Regions from separate parts of the Homo sapiens genome. Here region 1 is linked to region 2. Evidence: fine-mapped expression QTL. Tissue or cell type: whole blood. Region 2 holds a variant in brackets; the other region holds the start of a gene. All regions are shown on one strand. Distances are from middle to middle. Region 1 holds the start of SYT9-AS1 (SYT9 antisense RNA 1). Region 2 overlaps SYT9 (synaptotagmin 9).

Region 1 (2,916 bases), 8.0 kb after region 2:
CTACTAGTTTGGACTAGGGTTCTTAAAGGAAGCTCATCTGGCTAGATTTAGGGAGTCTAGAAAGCCAAGGCAGATAAAGTACTTTTAATACATCAGAAATGTAGACTGGACCTACAGAGGGAATTGACATAATTGCTAAAGCTTGGACTTTGAAATTGGAAGTCTTGGGTTTAAATCTCAGCTCTGACACTTAGTCACAGTGTGGCCTTGTGCAAATTAGTGTCTCTACAACGCTGCATCCTCCATTAAAGAACCCCACGGGGTCTTTTAAGAACTTGTAAAGTCCATATCCCAGTGCCTGGCATACAATAAGTACCCAAAAATGAAGGAATATGGGCTGATACCATCACAACTAATTCCAGACCACATTCATTGGTGACACTGAGCCTGTTAACAATTTGCTTTCTCTGATGGGAAGGAACTCAGGAATTGGCAAACTGATATGGGTATGGGTTTCACAGTTGAAAGAGCGGCTAGGGAACCACGGGCCTGATGTAGATGGTGGCTTAGAAAGTAGAGCTATTCGGGGCCAGGCGCGGTGGCTCACGCCTGTAATCCCAGTACTTTGGGAGGCCGAGGCGGGCGGATCACGAGGTCAGGAGATCAAGACCATCATGGCTAACACAGTGAAACCCCGTCTCTACTAAAAATACAAAAAAAAAAAATTAGCCGGGCGTGGTGGCGGGCGCCTGTAGTCCCAGCTACTCAGGAGGCTGAGGCAGGAGAATGGCATGAACCCGGGAGGTGGAGCTTGCAGTGAGTCGAGATTGCGCCACTGCACTCCAGCCTGGGGACAGAGCAAGACTCCATCTCAAAAAAAACGAAAGTAGAGCTATTTGGATGGTGCTCCAGGGTAGCAGCTGATCTGGCAAACTGATATTTGAACCACAATATTAAGACAAATATCATTCAGTCTTTCTTCCTAGACACAGAAACAAAGACCCCTTTCCCAGAGATGTGTGTGTGTGCCCACACACATGCACACACTTCAAAGCCACGGGTCACAATCAAACGTGGTTTCCCTTTGCAGTGAACACACTGGCTTTTAATACTTTCCTTAAGTAAGTTATAGCCTCACATGTGAACTTTTGATCTCTGAAATGAAGTCCATAAATTTCATTGTCAGAATGGTTGCTACTCTTTTATAGTTTACGTGTAAATTTTGTTATTCCTATATCCATAGAAGTCACTTCAGTTTTTTCTCTCTATGGCCACAGTATTACTACATTTAATCTGTGCTGGAAGGTGCCCTGAGTTTAAATTAAGTTGAATGCTGGGCTGAGTGTGAAACACAAGAGATACTGCTAGTCTAAGTCTGGGGCTTCCTTAAGAGAGCCCCTCCTTCACATCTCGGAAACAAGGAATGATGTTGCACCACTCAGACCTCATCTTTCCATCCCAGCTGTATTAGTCCATTTTCACGCTGCTGACAAAGACATATCCGAGAGTGGGAAGAAAAAGAGGTTTAACTGGACTTACAGTTCCACATGGCTGGGGAGGCCTCAGAATCATGGCAGGAGGCAAAAGGCACTTCTTACATGGCAGCAGCAAGAGAAAATGAGGAAGAAGCAAAAGCAGAAACCCCTGATAAACCCATCAGATCTCGTGAGACTTATTCACTATCACAAGAACAGCACGGGGAAGACCGGCCCCCATGATTCAATTACCTCCCCTGCCGGGTCCCTTCCCACAACACGTGGGAAGTCTGGGAGGTACAACTCAAGTTGAGATTTGGGTGGGGGCACAACTAAATCATATCACCAGCCTTACCTCCGACCACTTCATTCCTCACACTACAGTCCAGTCACACCAAATTGTGATGATTCCTTCAATGCACCATGCCCTTTATTGCATTCTGCCTTTGCACAGTCTCTTTCCTCTACCCCAAGTGACCCTTCTTCTTTCCAGAGGGATTCCTCTTCAGCCTAAATGGCTTAGCTCAAGACTCATCAATCAGAATGCTCTCTATAGACCTCCTCAATCCCTTTGAAGTTACTTTCTCCCTTCCCATTGCCCCTGCAGTATTCTATGCAGCTTCTCACATCATAATATCTCCATCTGTGAGCCCTTTGAAAGCAGGGGGAGTGTCCTACTTATGGGCTTAGTATCCCCAGCATCTATTACCATGCCTGGCACTTGTTTGGTGCACATTAAAAATGTATGAATGGGCCAGGCACAGTGACTCACGCCTGTAATCCCACCACTTTGGGAGGCCGAGGCAGGCAGATCACAAGGTCAGGAGTTCGAGCCCAGCCTGGCCAACATGGTGACACCCTGTCTCTACTAAAAATACAAAAATTAGCCAGGTGTGGCGGCGGGCACCTGTAATCCCAGCTACTTGGGAGGCTGAGGCAGGAGAATTGCTTGAACCCAGGAGGCGGAGGTTGCAGTGAGCCAAGATCGCGCCACTGCACTCCAGCCTGGGTGACAGAGCAAGACTCTGTCTCAAAAAAAAAAAAAAAAGAAAAAAAATGTATGAATGAAAGCCAAATTATTTTTTTGTTTTTTCTTCCTGCAGAAACGATGACCATGGGTAAGAGGACTGCTTGTGCCAAGGACAAAATAGGACAACCATCTCACAAAGATCTTAAGTAACTTTTTCCATCCAGCAACATCCAGACGATTTCAGTGACCAAATGCTCAGCTGTAACCACAGCACTAACTGGCCTTCTTTCCAGATTGGGTTTGGTGAACCTGAATGGTCCAGCCACCTTCTGCAGGTGGCCCAAGGTGATGTGCTGCAGGGAAGCATGTCTCTCATGCCAAGAACCAAGATCGGACTATGAACAAAAACAAATGATAGATATAGTGACAGTACCAAGAGTACCAGGACTCAATGTTTCATATGAAGCCCTTGGTGATGAGGACATAGCATCTGCCCTGGAAATCGTTATTCCAACATAATATTATTTTCTA
Region 2 (2,916 bases):
CCTTTTACTAAACATGGCAATTGAGCTTTTGCTCTCTGATCATGGAGAAGTTTCCAGTATGCAATAGTCAGGAGGCAGGAGGGGGCTGGTCAGTGTGTAAGTACTCAAGGGAGGATTAAAACAAGGTACAGTCTGCACACAGCTCCTCACAGTGGGTGGAGGCACCCAGAGGAGAGAGGCAAGCTGCCTGCACATGCAGCAGGCTGGTTACACCTCCCTCCAGTGTCTTCCCCATGTCAGGCAAATGAGAGCTAGAGGACCTTGGGATCTTGCTCTTTAGCCAGAAAATGGCCACCCTCCATAAGTGGTAATGGTGATATCCTGAAATCAAGTTCACAGGTGAACAGATCTAATGTCCATTTTATTGTTCACTAAAGTTTAGGGTCAGTTGAGAGTGGGTGATAAATATATGACTCTTCATTCATTATCTCTTTGGTATTTATATTTTTGACTTATTTTTTCAGAACTCCATTGGTCCCTATTCAGGAAATGCTAAATTTAAACAGCCCCGTCCTGTTTTGGGACCAGCCACCTAGAGTTCTCAAGTGCTAAAGGCAACGACCTCCTTCCCATCCTCACTCACCAGTAATTCCACAGGGCCAGGCTCAGTGAGATCTGTCAAGGCAAGAGGGGTGCTTCAGCTGATCCCATACTATCACTCAATTCTGGTTTTCTGACTCTCTTATTTGTTTTCAATCCAACCTCTACACTCCTTCAAGTACTAAAGTACAAATCTGAGCATGTAACTCTCCCACTTAAAAATCCTTCAATAACTGCCCTTCATTCTGAACAAGATCAAGATCGAGTTCCCTACCTTGGCATTCAAGGTCCTCTGCGACCCTGCCTCCATCTCCTCCTTATACTTTATGTTGGGGCCACACCTAATGGCTGGTGGTTCACACAGTGCTTTCTATTCACCCCCATGCCCTTGCTTCTGCTTTAACTTTTTCTTGTGCTGTCCTTTCAACCCCTCTTTTCCTGCCTAGATCCAGCCTGTCTTTTTAGCATCTAATCAGTTGTCAGCTTCTTCAGGAAGCATTCTGAAGATCCTGTGGTATGAGCTAAATGCTTCTCGTCTGTGCTATCCTCTCCTAGCACCCTGTGCCTGCCCCTGACATAGCATTTGGTGCCACTTGATATTATCTGTGTGTGTGTCATCCCCAGCACCTCCCACTGCTCCTTGAGAATGGGCCTAAGTGTTATTCATCATTGTATAACAAGCACCTGGCAAAATGCCTGGCACAAAGTCAGCATTGAATAAGTTCTTGTTGGACAGAATTTCAATTTCTTCT[A/G]TCTTACAACTTGTAAAATGATTTTTACAAGTTTTACTTACTGATTTCTTAGATAAATTCTCCATGTCAATTTTTCTTCAAATCTACAGGCATAGTGGTTCTATTAATGCACCAAAGCAACTGAGAGCTAGCTCTGAATGCCAAAGAGCCAGGCAACACCCATGAGAATGAAGACAGTGGCAGTGAAGGTCCCAGTCATCATCTCAGATGGATTTGCAGTGTCATGAGGGCTCAAACAGTTCTCATAAAGGTCTTTATAAGAGACTTACCTTAGTTTAAAAGGCAGGTTGGGAAACCCATGACCATTTCCTCCAGAAAGCACAGAATTCCTGCAAGCCTGGGGTCACTATTTTGGCTGCCATGCTGTCAGCTTATCCCAGCAATCTTTCAAGGTGCTTCACTGTATGGCATCATTTGCTGTATTGTAAGAATTCTGTTCAAGTAAGAATCAATCAAGCTTCCTTTGAAACAATCACTTTGCATAAGGAAATGGGAGTTTCAAGGATGTATTTATTTGTTCAACAAATATTGATTGAATACCTACTATAGGTGCTGAAGATACATTTTTAGGGACAAAATAGTCAAAAATCTTTGCTCTAGTGAAACTTGACTAGTGGGAGACACAGATGTATTATGTTATAGTGAAGGTAAATGCTATGAAGAATAAAATAGGGCCGGGTGCGGTGGCGCACACCTGTAATCCCAGCGCTTTGGGAGGCTGTGATGGGCGGATCACCTGAGGTCAGGAGTTCGAGACTAGACTGACCAACATGGCAAAACCCCTTCTCTACTAAAAGTACAAAAATTAGCCGGGCATGGTGGCGGTCGCCTGTAATCCCAGCCACTCAAAAGGCTGAGGCAGGAGAGTCACTTGAACCTGGGAGGCAGAGGTTGCAGTGAGCCGAGATCATGCTACTGCACTCCAGCCTGGGCAACAAGAGTGAGACTCCATCTCAAAAAAATTAATTAATTAATTTAATTTAATAGAGCAAGCAATGGGGATCAGAAGTGTGACATAGATTGTTTACTTTTTACAGGGGGTTAATTTTAATGGAGGTAATTGTAGGGCTCACAAACAATTGCAATATTTGAGCAAACACTTGAAGGAGGTGAGGGAGCAAGCCCTGTGGCCATGCAGAAATACACGCTAAGGGAACGGCCAATACAAAGGCCTTAAGGAGGTTCACACGAGGATAGTGAGGAGAGTAATGTGGGGGATGCAGGAGAGAAAAAAGAGAGAGAAGTAGGGGATGAGATCAGAAAGGTAACAGCGGGCAGAGCTCAGGTAACTGGAACCCAGTAGAGCTTCAAAAGTACTTTGGCTCATTCGCCAACATGGCAATTTTTAAGAGAGATGTGACATGATCCAAAGTTATCACTGATCTCTCTGCTGCTGTGTTGAGAATAGACTAGATAATGACAAGGTTGGACGTGAGAATACCCATTAGGAGTCTACTGCTATAATCTAGATGGCAATAACAGAGGCTTGGACAGTGTAGAAGCAAGGAACATGGTGAGAAATGGTTACATTCTGGGTATATTTTGAAGGGAGACCCAATAGGGTTTTCTGTAGGGTATGAGAGAGAAAAGTAAAGGATGATTCCAAGGTTGACCGTGGAAAGAT

Evidence for each region. PIP is the estimated chance that this variant, and not a neighbour inherited with it, causes the effect.
Region 1: it holds the start of SYT9-AS1, and the variant in region 2 is fine-mapped to the expression of SYT9-AS1 in whole blood (TOPMed, PIP above 0.99).

The regions. Positions count from the first base shown.
Region 1 is chr11:7,464,274-7,467,189 of GRCh38, forward strand. It overlaps SYT9-AS1 (SYT9 antisense RNA 1), which reads right to left and starts at 1,562. Exons shown (of 5, transcript NR_103855.1): 1 at 1,480-1,562. SYT9 (synaptotagmin 9) reads left to right here. Exons shown (of 7, transcript NM_175733.4): 7 at 2,519-2,916. The coding sequence ends at 2,527.
Region 2 is chr11:7,456,235-7,459,150 of GRCh38, forward strand. The region is part of intron 6 of SYT9 (synaptotagmin 9); the gene reads left to right. It overlaps SYT9-AS1 (SYT9 antisense RNA 1), which reads right to left. Exons shown (of 5, transcript NR_103855.1): 3 at 1,562-1,725. Among named protein-coding and RNA genes, the nearest start is that of SYT9-AS1, 8.1 kb to the right of the region's middle. The variant A/G (reference allele first, on the strand shown) is at 1,293.